Linked DNA regions of Homo sapiens: region 2 is linked to region 1. Evidence: fine-mapped expression QTL. Tissue or cell type: putamen. Region 1 holds a variant in brackets; the other region holds the start of a gene. All regions are shown on one strand. Distances are from middle to middle.

Region 1 (8,109 bases):
ATTGGCAAGGAGAAGTTCTGAGTCTTTGCAGGAAGCCCACCACATTCCAAGGTATCTTCTTGTGTTGGATGTAGGGTTTTCAGAACTTCAATTCTTGTTAGAATCAGTATTTACCCAAATCAATTTTCCCTGTCCTTAGCACCAATTTCCAAACTTATAATTCCATTTACTTTCAGTTTTAGGATTCTGCGTCTGTATGGTCACGGGTACGTATTTCCTGCTGTCATCACAGGCATGGAAATAAAATTTTGTGAATCCGAGTATTTCCCATAGACTGAGGTCTCGACTGCTTATACTGGCACACCTCGTTTTATGCACTTCACTTTATTGTGCTGTGCAGATATCGTATTCTTACAGACTGAAGGTTTGTGGCAACCCTATATCCAGCAAATCTATTGGTGCCATTTTCCCAACAGCATGTGCTCACTTCATGTTTCTGTGTTACATTTTAGTAATTCTCTCAATATTTCAAACATTTTCATTATTTTTGGGGAGCAGCTGGTTTTGGTTACATGAATAAGTTCTTTAGTGGTGATTTCTGAAATTTTGGTGCACTCATCACATGGTCAGTGTACACTGTACCCAATGCATAGTCCTTTAACCCTCATGCCCCACCCGCCCTTTCGCCTGAATCCCCAAAGTCTATTACATCATGTTTATGCCTTTGTGTCCTCATAGCTTAGTTCCCACTTATAAGTGAGAATACACAACATTCCATTCCTGAGTTACTTCACCTATAATCATGGTCTCCAACTCCATGCAGGTTGCTGCAAATGTCATTATTTTGTTTCGATTTATGGCTGATTCGTTTTCCATGGTGCATATATACCACATTTTCTTTATTCACTAATTGTTTGATGGACATTTAAGCTGGTTCCACATTTTTTGCAATTGCAAATTGTGCTGCTATAAACATGTGTGTGCCAGTGTCTTTTTCATATAATGACTTCCTTTCCTTTGTGTGAAGAATACCCAGTAGTGGGATTACTGGATTGAATGGTGGTTCTACTTTTAGTTATTTAAGGAATCTCCATACTGTTTTCCACAGTGGTTGTACTGGTTTACATTTCTACCAGCAGTGTAAAAATGTTCCTTTTTCACCACATCCATGCCAACATCTATTTTTTTTTTCATTTTTAAATTATGGCCATTTTTGCAGGAGTAAGGTGGTATCACATGTGGTTTTTATTTGCATTGCCCTGATAATAAGTGATGCTGAGTATTTTTTTTTATACTTTAAGTTCTAGGGTACATGTGCACAACGTGCAGTTTTGTTACATATGTATACATGTGCCATGTTGGTGTGCTGCACCCATTAACTCGTCATTTACATTAGGTATATCTCCTAATGCTATCCTTCCCGCCCCCCCCACCCCCCACCCCACCACAGGCCCCGGTGTGTGATGTTCCCCTTCTTGCGTCCATGTGTTCTCATTGTTCAATTCCCACCTATGAGTGAGAACATGTGGTGTTTGGTTTTTTGTCCTTGTGATCGTTTGCTGAGAATGATGGTTTCCAGCTTCATCCATGGCATTTTTTTATTTGTTTGTTGGCCATTTGTTTATCCTCTTTTGAGAATTGTCTGTTCATGTCTTTTGCCCACTTTTTGTTGGGATTATTTCTTTTTCCTTGCTGATTTGTTTGAGTTCCTGTATACTAGTCCTTTGTTAAATGCATAGTTCACAAATATTTTCTCCCACTCTGTGGGTTGTCTGTTTACTCTGCTGATTATTTCTTTTGCTGTGCAGAAGCTTGTTAGTTTAATTAGGTCCCATTTATTTATTTTTGTTTTTGTTGCATTTGCTTTTGGGTTCTTGGTCATAAAGTCTTTGCATAAGCTCATATCTAGAGAGTATTTCTGATGTCTTCTTCTAGAATTTTTATGGTTTCAGGTCTTAGATTTAAGTCTTTGTTCAATCCTGAATCAATGTTTGTATAAGGTGAGAGATGAGGATCAAGTTTTATTCTTCTACATGTGGCTTGCCAATTATCCCAGCACCATTTGTTGAATAGGGTGATCTTTCCGTAATTTATGTTCTGTTGTGGTGTGTTTGAGACGGAGTTTCACTCTTGTCACCCAGGCTGGAGTGCAATGGCACAATCTGGGCTCACTGCATCCTCAGCCTCCCAGTTTCAAGCAATTCTCCTGCCTCAGCCTCCCAAGTAGCTGGGATAACAGACACCCGCCACTATGCCCGGCTAATTTTTGTATTTTTAGTAGGGATGAGGTTTCACCAGGTTGGCCAGGTTTGTCTCAAACTCCTGACTTCAGTGATCTGCCCACCTTGGCCTCCCAAAGTGCTGGGATTACAGGTGTGAGCCATGGCGCCCAGCCCCCAATTTATGTTTTTGTTTCTTTGTCAAAGATCAGTTAGCTGTAAGTATTTGGATTTATTTTTGGGTTCTCTATTCTGTTCCATTGGTCTACATGCCAATTTTCACACCAGCCCCATGCTGTTTTGGTAACTGTAGCCTTGTATTATAGCTTAAAGTCGGGTAATGTGATGCCTCCAAATGTGTTCTTTTTGCTTAGTCTTGCTTTGACTATGTGGGCTCCTTTTTGGTTCCATATGAACTGTAGAATTTTTTTTTCTAGTTCTGTGAAAAGTGATGATACTATTTTGATGGGAAGTACACTGAATCTGTAGATTTTGGCAGTATGGCCATTTTCACAATATTGATTCTACCCATCCATGAGCATGGGATGTGTTTCCATTTATTTGTGTCATCTATGATTTCCTTCAGCAATGTTTTGTAGTTTTCCTTGTAGAAATCTTTTACCTCCTTGGTTAAGTACATTCCTAGGTTTTTCGGGGTTTTTTTGTTTTTGTTTTTGTTTTTGTTTGCAGCTGCTGTAAAACGGATTGAGTTATTTATTTGATTCTCTGTTTGGTTGTTGTTGGTGTATAGTCATACTACTGGTTTGTGTACATGAATTTTGTATCCTGAAAATTTATTTAATTCATTTATCAGTTCTTCGAGTTTTATGGATGAGTCTTCAGGGTTTTCTAGGTATATGTCATATCATCAGTGAACAGCGACAGTTTGACTTTCTCTTTACTGATTTGGATGCCCTTTACTTCTTTCTCTTGTCTGATTGCTCTGGCTAGGACTTCCAGTACTATGTTGGGTAGAAGTGGTGAAAGTTGGCATCCTCGTCTTGTTCCAGTTCTCAGGGGCAACGCTTTCAACTTTTCCCTGTTCAGTATTATGTTGCTCCTGACTTTATTTCTGTGTGAGTTGTTTCTTCAGGATAGCTTTTCTTTGTAACACAATGGTAGCAGCAAGTTCAGGCTGTAAATCCATATTCTTTGTCATCCAAAA[A/G]GAAAGAGATTTCCTGTGTCCCACAACTCCCAAAAAATTTTTCAAAGCATCACATTGATTAGACAACCTCTAAAGCAATCCCTTGAACTAAGGGAATATCATGTACTGAATGGCTTAGTATTCAATTACCTGGAGCAGTAAACATGGACTCAGGGCAAGATGTGGATTTGCAGCATTTGCCAATTTCCATGGTGTAAATATTCCCACGATAGCCAATAAAGTGTGTGAGAGAGAGGAAAAATGGAAACACTATGAAGAATGCCAGAAATATTGTCAAGAGACAGGGAATGAAGAAACAACAGAACATATCTTAAGGCATTGAGGGAAAAATAATATCTTTTGCTGATTTAAGTCTACTTAATAAAATGGTTACACACATAAATACTAGAATAATAGATACCAAACTATGAACAGTTATTATTTCTTGGTGGTAGCCATATGAGTAAACTTCCTTGTATTTTTTAAATATATATATATATGAATAAACAACATATTTCTTTTACAAGAGGAAAATATGGTATTTTCATAATACTATTTGCCAAAACACATCTGGAATTGATGTCAGAATTCAGCACTCCTAATGCAGCATTCTCTACTTAATTATGTAAAATCACTCAACAAACATTCTCCTCATGCAAAGAAGTAGAATGAAATTGTTGGTAAAGGAAATGGCTGATTTTACACATTATAAACTCACTCCTTCTGCAGTGTCATTCAAATATTTATTGATCACCCTCTACCTACCATAATCATTTTCCATGAATTGTTCCCAAAACAATTTTATTGATATTAATCTTTATAATAATATTCCAAACTTTTAATTGCAATAAAAATCATCAAAATAAATGCATGTTATACTGATTTATCATCTTATTTAGCTATTACTGTGATGCTTACTTCACACTACAAGACATGAAAAAATTGAAAAAATGATGAAGTTGATAGACCAGAAAAACTATCTATTAATTATGTGAGGAACTTAAATTATCAAAAACTAAGTGGTTTTCCTTGCTTTAAAGAAATTACAATGTCTGAGTGGCAGATGAAATGAAATAAGACAGAAATTCATCTTTCTTCCTCTGCCCCTCATTCATAAGCCTTTTTGTTCATTTCAAAATGGAAAGCAAGAAGAATTAATGAGATTTTTGCCTGAAGCATATCCCTCTAAACCCACATCTATTTAAATTAAAAATTCACCAAAATAGTGTCTGCATTTTCAGTAATTCTTGAAAAACAATTGTATAGCCTCCAAATGACAATCTCAAAAGATAAAGAAATAATACAAATATATTTAAAAAACAACTGTCTGAATCTATATATTTTTCCTCTTGAGTCTTTTTTCAAATTGAAGTCTTCAGATGAAATGTTTATAAGCCTATTCAAGTGTCTGCACTTATTTCTACACCTAGCATAAGATCATAACATTTTATCGTGTTAGAAAAGCAGCACTTACAGGACAACTGCTCTGAAATTCATATGCCACAGCATATAACTGAAGGATTTTCAGTGGAGTGGTCTTGAGAGTAGATGATTTTTCTCCCCAGGGGTCTGCCTTCCATACTAGATTAGGAACTCCTCAAGGCAAGGGATTTTCTTTATGTCATAGGCACCTTTGCATATTGGTGGACATATAATTGGTTTCAGTGAATATTTATTAAATAAATGAATCAGTAATTGAATAAAGCTCTGCTTTGCCCAGTGGCTCAAATTCATGAATCCAGAAACAACCTTAAATTTGAATAAGCAGAGATGTAAAATTGCATGTAGGACATAGTCACATGGTGGCTTCTCAAGTCATCCGCAGTCCATCCATCCTCAAAACCTCAAAAGCTCCTTGAGCCTTCTGACCACTTTCTAAGGCAAAGAAATTATGGCATCTCCATCTTATTCATTGAAAGGTGTTGCCCAATTTAGGTTTCAAGGGGTCCTTCTAGCAAGCTGTTAAGATAAGCACCCAGTGTGTGACTGGAACACTGAATCCTGAGTTATGGGTGCCCCTCTATCACAGAATTCTCCCCTATCCAGCCTATACTCCTCCCTCTCAGGACTAACATTTTCAAGATCCACCTCTGATGTGCTGCCTCATTTCCTCCGGGCACTTCTTACCCACATTCTCTAACTCCTTTATAGGGACCACTTCACCCTAAAGAAGGGCTCTACTTCCCCATTCAGGCTGAGCTGAGACCTGAATCTGGTTATCGGCCTGAAGGCAATGAGGGTGGTGGACTTGAGCTTGAGGAGAACCAGCCAGTCGACTGCCTCGCCCTCACCTGAAGCTTCTCAAAGTATCCAGACAATGGGAAGCAAGAGGGCTTGTTTTCCTTTGGAAAGGGTGATGGAGCTGCTTCTGCCAATGAGGAGGATCCAGAGGAACTGGGACCCTTACGGTACCCTCCTGTGTCTCAAAGTGCCCATCTTTTCCTCTCAGGGTGCTAAATTTGTCAGAGGAACCTTGTTGAGATGGTGCGCATAATATGTCTTGCATTTCTGCCGCCCTTATAATTAAATCCAGAGCTGGATTTTCAGCACAGGCTTCATGGTAGCTGTGAGAAATGAGTCCTTTAAAGCTGCCTTAGGAACACTCTGGCTGACAAAGCATGGCTTAAATGTGTCTGTGATTCTCTTTTTATAAAGCTACTAATTCCATCAAAAGAAGATACCTCATGCCACAATCCTTATAAATTTTGTTCCTCTCATAACAACCAGATGCATCAGTCACGCATCTACCAATGCCTTGTCTTATAACTACACTTCTCAATAAACCACAAGTGAAAACTTCAGTAATTTTTATGAGTAATCAGCAGAAGAATGCTCCCTGCAGAGATATGTACTTTCCAGAAGCTGTGAATATGCCACTTTACATATAGACAAAAGGGACTTTGTGGATGTGATTGAGGTTAGGTAGTTTGAGATGGGGAGATTATCCTGGATTATCAAATGGGCTCAGTCTAACCATTCGAGTTCTTAAAGACAGAGATACTTTCCTAACTGGGTAAGAAGTGACCATGGAATAAGGGTCAGGGAGCTGCTACTGCATTGCTGGCCTTTGAAGACAGAAAAAGGGGCCACAAGCCAAGAAAGTACAGGTGACTTCTAGAAGCTAGAGAAGACAAGGAGCCAGCTTCTCCTTTGGAGCCTCTGGAAAAGAACACAGCCTTACTGACACTTTGACTTTAGCCCAGTGAGACCTCTATCAGACTTCCACCCTACAAATTTTAAGATAATAAATTAGGCCAGGCTCACATCTGTAACCCCAGCACTTTAAGAGGCTGAGGTGGGTGCATCACTTGAGGTCAGTAGTTCGAGACCAGCTTGGCTAACATGGTGAAAATTCTTTCTCTACTAAAAATATAAAAATTAGATGGGCATGGTGGCAGGTGCCTGTAGTCCCAGCTACTTGGGAGGCTGAGGCAGGAGAATTGCTTGAACCCAGAAGGCAGAGGCTGCAGTGAGCCAAGATCACACCACTACACTCCAGCCTGGGCAACAGTGTGAGACTCCATCTCAAAAAAATTTTTTAAATTTAATTTAAAAAAAAATAATTAATGCCTTGTGTTGTTTTAAGCCACTAAGATTATGGTAATTTGTCACGACAGCAATAGCTAATTCAGGATGCTGCTGTATGCCAGAATTGTCAGCATTTCATTTTCCACAAGCAATGAAGTTCCTAATGCTTTCAGACAGATAGGCAACTCAACCCAAAATCCAGTCTTGAGGGTCTGCGTTCTAGACCCACTCCTCTACCTGCGTTTCCTAGAAAACAAAACCTGTGGCAGTTACCCATGTACTGAGGCTTTATAAAAAAGGACAATCCCAGGACAGCAAGAGTGTGGAAGGAAGTAGATCAAGTTAGCAAATATAAGGTCCACCTCATTTATCCACTTATCTAGCCACAGCTTATAAGACAACACAGCCAGTTGCTTGGCCATGTGGCCCATCTTCCAGACAGATCATGGAAAACCATTTCCCCTCAGAAGAGTCCAGCAGGGGAAGAAAGGGAAATGAATGGAACCTTTGAGCACATCTCCTGCCTTCATTAGTCAGAATGTTCCCTCCACACTTTCAAAGTCTTCACCCAGTAGGGCAACCCACTAGGGAACCCAGGTCCCGCTGCCTGTAGCGCAGAAGTGGAGTAATGGGCCAAGACTCCCCCGATCCTTAGGTGATGGCTGGGTGCAAGGTTGATGCAGCTCCTGCCAAGACATGCACCACGGACACCATGGAGAGCCCAACCATCGCCAAGTGGGCGGGGGAGGACTGAGACCCAGAGGGAGAAGATGAGGGGCCTTCCATTGAGCGAGCTGCTCAGGACCTGGGGGACAGGGCGAGCAATGAGAATCTATGGAGGCACATGAACAAGGTCTCATACAGCAGCTTAGAAAATTCCATAATGCAAGACCTCTAAAATTAGAAACCTAAGACAAATAGCAGAGGCAAAAATTTCCACTTTTAAAAGTTTTGTAATCACAAAATTTCATCAGCACACACACATACACACACGCACACAATCACCTAATTCATAATAACTACATGTTGATATACAAATTTTTGAGTTGGCCAGTCGTATTCAATAGACTTTTTGGACTGCCTTGGAAAAGTTCCACTTTTCTGAGTCTAACGTTTCTATACTAGATTAGCACTTCTTTTGTTGGTCAATGGGGAAATGGGACAAGACCAGACAATCTTACCTAGGTCTTATTGGAAGGGCTGGACCTACTATCCTTTGGTACCCTTTGATTCCAGGATGTCTTCTTGGCAGCCAATCATGCCACTGTCTTAGGTCAG
Region 2 (8,109 bases), 150 kb after region 1:
CTTAAGAACCCTACAGTTATGAGAACTACTAGTCTTACAAATCAATCATATATAATAGCAACTTATTTCTGATCCATTTAGCAAGCTAAAATCCTTGGTAACATTTGACCTAGGTAGCTCAATTCCTTGATTTAGTGTCACTTCAATATTAAAAGCCAGCAACCAAGCTGGGCACAGTGGCTTACACCTATAATCCCAGCTACTCCTGAGACTGAGGCAGGAGGATCCCTTCAGCTCAGGAGTTTGAGACTGCAGTGAGCTGTGATTTCACCACTGTCCTCCAGCTTGGTCAACAGAGCAAGACCCTGTCTAAAAAAACAAATAAATAAGTTAAAAAAAAAAAAAAAAAGAAAAAAAAACCCAGCAACCTCTCAAACTACTGTTTAGTATACCTCCACCTTCTGACTCAGAAATCCCATTCCTGGGTATGTATCAATAGAAATTAGTCCTTACATCTGTCAAAAGGCACACATAAAAATGTCTAGAGTGTCCAGAGCAGGCTTATTTATAACAGACAGAAAACAGAAATTAGCTGATTGCCCATCAACAGGAGAATGGATAAACTGTGGTATATGTATATAATAGTATACTACAGAGAAATAAAAAGAAAAAAAGTACTATGGCTCACACATCGATGGATTAATCTCACAAACATAATGTAGAGAGAAAGAAGCCAGAAACAAGAATATATACTTACATGATTTATTTTTATAGCGTTCAAAACCAGTCAAAATTAGCCTATGGTGACAGAAGTCATAATTGGTTGCTACCTTCTGTCAGGGAGTATTGATAAGAGAGAGGACATGAGAGCCTTCTGAGGGCTGGAAACATTGTATATCTTGATGCAGACGATGGTTACACAGGTGAATACATACATAAAAATTAATCTAGCTATCCACTTAAGCTGTACATCTTACTGTACATAAATTATACGTCAAAATAATAATAAAAATTAGTGGGTAGGGGAGTAACTAGCATAAGCCTGGCAAAAAGTCATACACTCAAATATTTTTTGTGATGACTATGAACTAGACAGTGGGCTAGGGACACTAAAAAAATAAAGACACTTGGGTCCCAGCCACAGAGTTCACAGGCATGTAAATAAACAACTGCAACACATATAAGAGCACTAGGTCACTAGCACATAAGTCACTAGGTGGCACCTAATTGGTTAGTTGGTCAGAGAAAATGTCACAAGGTCTCATCCCAGTTTAAATTTTTAAAAAATCTAATGTCTATAAAGAACACTTTGGGGACAACTAGAAAAATCTGAATCTAAACTATATATATTCATGTTACAGCAATGTTGAATTCCTAAGTATGATCACTGCGGTTATTTGGAAGAATGTCCTTATTCTTAAAGACATATGCTGAAATATCTATTTTCAACGAAGGTACACTAGGCTAAAGATACCAAGAAATTGGAGGAGGGTCAGAGAACTTAAACAAATGTTTAAAACAGGCCGGGTGCGGTGGCTCAAGCTTGTAATCCCAGCACTTTAGGAGGCCGAGGCGGGAGGATCACGAGGTCAGGAGATCGAGACCGTCCTGGCTAACACGGTGAAACCCCGTCTTTACTAAAAATACAAAAAATTAGCCGGACGTGGTGGCAGGCGCCTGCAGTCCCAGCTACTAGGGAGGCTGAGGCAGGAGAATGGCATGAACCCGGGAGGCGGAGCTTGCAGTGAGCCAAGATCGCGCCACTGCACTCCAGCCTGGGCGACAGAGCAAGACTCCGTCTCAAGGAAAAAAAAAAAAAAATGTGGAAAACAAATTGCTAAATTAAATGTGTGACCTTGAACGAGTTTCTTAAGACTCCGTACTTCTATGTCCTCATCTACAAAAGCAAAGGGTTGGACTAAGGTCCTTCCAAACTCTAGAGCTGCATTTCTTAATACCAGGGTAGAAGACAGCAACTGTTATAAAGAAAATAATATTGGAAATTTCCATAAGGAGAAATGAAGGCTTTTAAATGAACTTCCAAAAAGATAAAGATTTTGACTAGAATGAAAACGTATTTGTCACTAAATTCCCCATTTTCTAAAAACTAAATAGCACTCTTCTAAGATTCATAAGAAGGAAGTTCAAGGTCAAAAAGTCACTTCTATCGGGAAGCAAACTCACAGAACTCACTACCCCTAGGCTGAAAGTATGAACAACTTCAATAAAAATGAAAAAAAAAAAAAAAGGTAGGGGCGGGAGGGCCCTAAATCAATTCATACTATGACATGTATGAAGAGTTACTTCAGAAAAAAACCCAAAACTCTGGAATTGACTTAGGACACCAATAATGCCCTTCCACAGTTTTTTGTTGTCAAAGTTGGAAGGAAGATGTTTGTTTTCGAAGTTGTGGAGCCAACTCAAGTACACGGCTTTAGAACCAGACACCTCTGGGATTAAATCTCAGCTTTGATCTTACCTCCTATATGACCTAGTCCAAATTACTTGTTCTCTTAACCATAATATGTTCAACAATGATGCAGGTGTTGAATGACTTCCTCACAGTTGCTGAAAAACCTGAGAAACTACACGTAAAGCGCTTAGCACATTACCTGGCACACATCAAATATTCAAAACAAGGCCAGTAACTATTATGCTATAGCCTATCCAGAAATAAGGCTATACAAAAGATTATTTTCTTACCTCTCCAACTGGTTAGGTAGAAAACATAATCTTATTACTGCTATTAACAAGTAGAACAGTATACAACTACTTGGAGGAGAGGGGAAACTTCCCTACCTTGCCCCACAAAAGGCAAGTCAGTAAGCACCGCTGGTCCTCTGACATTCCCACCTATGACAGCTCCCAAGAAACACAAAAGTACTTTTGAAGGGCATTCCCCCCTGCCCAAAAAGGGGCGGCGCAAGTCTCAGCCCACCGTGCCAGACGCCGGAATGGCAGCAGAAAATGTCCTGACCCCCTCACCTCCACTCAGAGCCCACCTGCTCCCGCCCATCTCTTAGAAACTGCAGGAGCAGCCACGGCCGGGCCGCCGGGGATCCTCGCGGACTAAGGGCTGGGTCAGAGCCGCGCAAACATGGGCTCGCTCGTAGTCCTGGCGAGCAGCACTCCCAGGCAAGTCGCCCGAGGGCCTTGCAGGGCACCCAGAAAATGTCACTGCCGGCGAAGTGACCCCGAGCCGGGCCACGGGACCCCTCACACCTCACCCTTTCTCCTGCCGACCCTCGAGACGACAGCGGACTGGAAGGCATTACCTGAGCAGCAGCCCGCTGGGCCGTCCGAGGCCGGTGGTTCCGAAGGGTGGCCACGGCCACTAGCCTGCCGTAGAACATGGAGGCCGCCATTTCTGAGTCGGACCCCGTCCCCTCGGCGCCGCGCGCAGGCGCACAGGCGACAGGCGGCCCAAGGCGCAGCCTCTCTGCAGCGCTCACCTACGCCCCGCCTCGCGCCACCCGTTGGGGGCGGGGCCTCGGGTTAACACTGCAGCCGCTAGACCAGCTCCCTGGCGGGCGCGGAGCAAGCTTTGACCTTTGGAACTGGGCACCGCAGCCCCAATATCTGCCCTGCGGTCAGAGCAACCTGAACACTTCCTAGTGAATTGCAATGTAAAGGTGACCAGCGCCGCCACTTGGGTGATCTTAACTTCTCTCAGCCTCAGTTGCCTCATCTGTAAAATGTGTTTCATTCAAGAAATGATTACCCAGTGTCTACTTCGTGCTAAACAGCCTTGAGCCCTTGGCCTACAGCAATGAATAAAACCATTTGTGATGCTCAAAGAGAAGATGGTCGGTGTAACGCGCTTGTGATGCTCAAAGAGAAGATGGTCGGTGTCATGCGCTTCTGATGCTCAAAGAGATCGGTGTCACGCGCATCCGTGTGAAGACACCGCCAAACAGGGTGTGAGCAATAAGGCTGTTTATTTTAACTGGGTGCAGGCGGGCTGAGTCCGAAAAGAGAGTCAGCAAAGGGAGATAGGGGTGGGGCTGTTTTATAGGATTTGGATGGGTAGCGGAAAATTACAAAGGGGGTTTTTCTCTTACGGGCAGGGGCGGGGGTCACAAGGTGCTCAGTGGGGGAGGTTCTGAGCCAGGAGAAGGAATTTCACAAGGTTAATCACTCAGTTAAGGTGGGGCAGGAACAAATCACAATGGTGGAATGTCATCAGTTAAGGCAGGAACCGGCCAATTTCCCTTCTTTTGTGATTCTTCACTTGCTTCAGGCCATCTGGATGTACACGTGCAGGCTTGGGCTCAGAGGCCTGACAGTCGGCCACTAGTTACCAAAGCTGGTGGCAGGCTGGAGTCTCCAGGGAAGCTATTGATTGATTGATTGACTGATTGACAGGGTCTTGGTCTGTCACCCAGGCTGGAGTGCAGTGACGCGATCACAGCTCACTGCAGCCTCAACCTCCCATGCTCAAGGGATCCTCCCACCTCAGCCTCTGGAGTAGTTTGGGACCACAGATGTGTGTCACCAGGCTTGGTTGATTTTTTTATTTTATTTTTTTAGGGACAGAATCTCTCTATGTTGCCCAGGCTGGTCTCCAACTCGTGGGTTCAAGCGATCCTCCTGCCTCAGTCTCCCAAAGTGCTGGGATGACAGGTGTGGGCAACCACACCCAGCCAAGGATCTGGTTTTTGAAAAGATAAATAAATTTAACAAACCTCCAGCAAGACTGCAAAGAAAAAAGAAAAAGAGAAGACACAAATTACCAATGTGAGGAACATACCAGGGAATATAATTACAGAACCTTCAGACACCAAAAAGGAATGCCATAAATAACACCACATAACATAAATTTGACAACTTTGACAAGATGAGCGAATTCTTCAGAAGGCACAAATTACTACAAATAACCTAATATGAAAAGGTAATTTAAATAGTCCTCTAACTAGAGAAAATTGTAATTGTAATTTTTAAACTAAAAAAAAAAAAAACCTGAGATCTCCAGGCCCAAAAGCTTTCACTGATGAATTCTATAAAATGTTTACACAAGAATTAACACCAATTCCATACAGCCTCTTCCAGAAGATAGAAGAGGAAGGAACAGTTGCCAATGTACTGTATGAAGTTAGAATCACCCCACTACCAAAGCCAGCAAAAGACCGTACAAAAAGAAAAAAATACCAACACTTCTCATGAATATTGATGGAAAAATCCATAGCAAAATATTAGCAAATATAATTCAGAAATATATAAAAAGAATTGTACAATATGACCAAGTGGGATATATTCCAGAGATGTAAGTTTGTTTTAATATTTGAAAATATGTGTAATGCACTATATTAAGTTAGAAAAATCACATGATAATTTCGATCAAAACAAAAAAAGTAGCTGGGCACAATGGTTCATGCCTGTAATCCAAACACTTTGGGAGGCCGAGGTGGGAGGATTGCTTGAACCCAGGAGTTTGAGACCAAACTGGTTGGGCCACATAGCAAGACTTCATTTCTATAAATAATTTTAAAATTAGCCAGTCATGGTGGTGTACACCTGTGGTCCCAGCTACTCCAGAGACTGAGATGGGGGGGAAATCACTTGAGCCCAGGAGGTCCAGGCTGCAGTGAACCGTGATCGTGCCCCTGCACTCCAGCCTGAGTGACATAATGAGACCCCCATTACAAAAAAAAAAAAAAAACAGGCCAGGCATGGTAGCTCACGCCTGTAATCCCAGCACTTTGCGAGGCCGAGGCAGACAGATCATCTGAGGTCAGAAGTTTGAGACTAGCCTGACCAACACAGAGAAACCCCGTCTCTACTAAAAATACACAATTAGCTGGGTGTGGTGGCATGTGCCTGTAATTCCAGCTATTCAGGAGGCTGAGGCAGGAGAATCATTTGAACCAGGGAGGCAGAGGTTGCAGTGAGCCGAGATCGTGCCATTGCACTCCAGCCTGGGCAACAGGAGTGAAACTCCATCTCAAAAAAAAAAAAAACAAAAAAAGCATCTTACAAATTCCAACATTCATTCATGATTAAAAACTCAGATAAACAGGAATAGAGGGGAACTTCCTCATCTTGATAAACCGGATTACAAAAAACTTACGGCTAATATACTTAATGGTGAGAGAAGACTGAATGCTCTTCTCATAAGACTGGGAGCAAGGCAAGGGTGTTCGCTCTCACCACTTTTATTCAATATAGTGCTGGGAGTTCTTGTCAGTGCAATAGACAAGAAAAGCAATTACAAACATATGGAGTGAAAAGAAAGAAAGAAAACTCTCACTATTTACAGATAACATAATTGTTGCTATAGTTTGGATATCTGACCATCCAAACCTCATGGTGAAATCTGATTCTCCAATGTTAGAGGTGGGGCCTGGTGGAAGGTGTTTGGATCACGGAGGCCGATCCCTCATGAAGGGCTTGGTGCTGTCCTCTGGGTAATGAGAAGTTCTCATTGTATTGGCTCCTGTGAGAGTTCTCCCAAGAACTCATTGTTAAAAACAGCCTAGCACCTTCCCTCTTTCTCTCTCTCACTTCTGCTCTCTTCCAGTGTGATCTCTGCACATGCCAGCTCCCATTCACCCTCTGCCATTTGGGGAAGTTTCCTGAGTCCCTCACCAGAAGCAGATGCTGGCTCTAGGCTTTTTGTTTAGCCTGCAGAACCATGAGCCAAATAAACCTTTTTTCTTTATGAATTACCAACCCTCAGGTAATTTATACACAATTTTCACACGCGTCCATGTGAAGAGACCACCAAACTCACTTTGTGTGAGCAATAAAGCTTTTTAATCACCTGGGTGCAGGCGGGCTGAGTCGGAAAAGAGAGTCAGCAAAGGGAAATAGGGGTGGGGCCGTTTTATAGGATTTGGGTAGGTAAAGCAAAATTACAGTCAAAGGGTGTTGTTCTCTGGCAGGCTGGGGTGGGGGTCACAAGGTGCTCAGTGGGGGAGGTTCTGAGCCAGGAGAAGGAATTTCACAAGGTTAATCGCTCAGTTAAGGTGGGGCAGGAACAAATCACAATGGTGGAATGTCATCAGTTAAGGCAGGAACAGGCCATTTTCACTTCTTTTGTGAATCTTCAGTTACTTCAGGCCATCTGGATGAATACGTGCAGACTTGGGCTCAGAGGCCTGACAAGAATAAGATGATTGTCTGTGTATAAAATCCCAAACATTTTACCAAAAAAAAAAAAAAAAAACTCTTTGAATTGATAAGTGAGCCCTGCAAGATCTCAGGAAACAAGAAAAATATACAAAAATCAATTGTATTTCTAGGTACAAGCAATGAACACATGGACCCAAATCGAAAATACAATACCACCTAAAATTCCTTTTAAAAATGAAATGCATGTAAATCTAATAAAACATGAACAGGACTTACCTGCTGAAAACTACACAATACTGATGACATAAATCAAAGAAGATAAATAAGTGAAGAGATATTACCATGTTAATGGATTGGAAGACCTAACACAGTAAAGATGTCAATTCTTCCCCAAATTGATATATACATTTAATGTATTTCTATTAAAATTCAAGCAAAACTTTTTATACATACAGACGTAGTATTATAAACTTTATGTGAAAAGACAAACTAGAATAGCTGAAACAATTTTGAAAAGAACAAAGTGGGAAGAAACAGTCTGAGTTCAACATTTACTATAATAGCTACAATAATCAAGACTGTGTGGTATTGCTGGAGAGAGAGACACATAGATTGATGAAACTTAATAAGAAACCTAAAAATAGGCTCACACAAATATGCCCAACTGATTTTTGACAAAGGTGCAAAAGTAATTCAACGGAGGAAATATGGTCTTTTAAACAAATGGTGCTGGAGGAATTGGACATCCATAAGCAAGCAAACAATCAAAAAGAGCCCTGACCAAAATCTCACATATTATACAAAACTTAACTCAAAATTACCTTAACTGTAAAACACAAAACCATAAAACATTTAGAAAAAAATAGGAGAAAATTTCAAGATCTAAAACTAGGTAAAGAATTCTTAGACAACACCAAAAGCATGATCCATAAAAAAAAAATTGATAAATTGTGCCCCATCAAAATAAAAGCTTTGGCTTTGCAAAAGGCCATGTTAAGGTAAAAATTCAGCCAGGTGTGGTGGCTCACACCTGTAATCCCAGCATTTTGGGAGGCTGAGGGGGGTGGATCACCTGAGGTCAGGAGTTTAAGACCAGCC

Direction of the effects. Positions count from the first base shown, and alleles are read on the strand shown. Sizes are in standard deviations (SD) of each study's normalised expression.
For the expression in putamen of the gene that starts at base 3,441 in region 2, G is the high allele of the variant in region 1 and A is the other (large effect, 1.3 SD a copy in GTEx).

The links. PIP is the estimated chance that this variant, and not a neighbour inherited with it, causes the effect.
Region 2: SUCLA2-AS1 starts here. The variant in region 1 is fine-mapped to the expression of SUCLA2-AS1 in putamen (GTEx, PIP 0.93).

What each region holds. Positions count from the first base shown.
Region 1 is chr13:47,847,379-47,855,487 of GRCh38, forward strand. No RefSeq gene overlaps it. Among named protein-coding and RNA genes, the nearest start is that of LINC00562, 81 kb to the right of the region's middle. The variant A/G (reference allele first, on the strand shown) is at 3,325.
Region 2 is chr13:47,997,965-48,006,073 of GRCh38, forward strand. SUCLA2-AS1 (SUCLA2 antisense RNA 1) reads left to right here and starts at 3,441. Exons shown (of 2, transcript NR_189308.1): 1 at 3,441-3,858; 2 at 4,471-4,727. SUCLA2 (succinate-CoA ligase ADP-forming subunit beta) reads right to left here and starts at 3,309. Exons shown (of 11, transcript NM_003850.3): 1 at 3,216-3,309. The coding sequence starts at 3,305. RefSeq lists enhancers at 2,944-2,993, 3,014-3,063, 3,084-3,273, 3,650-4,849, 5,521-6,118 and 1 more and a silencer at 3,394-3,503.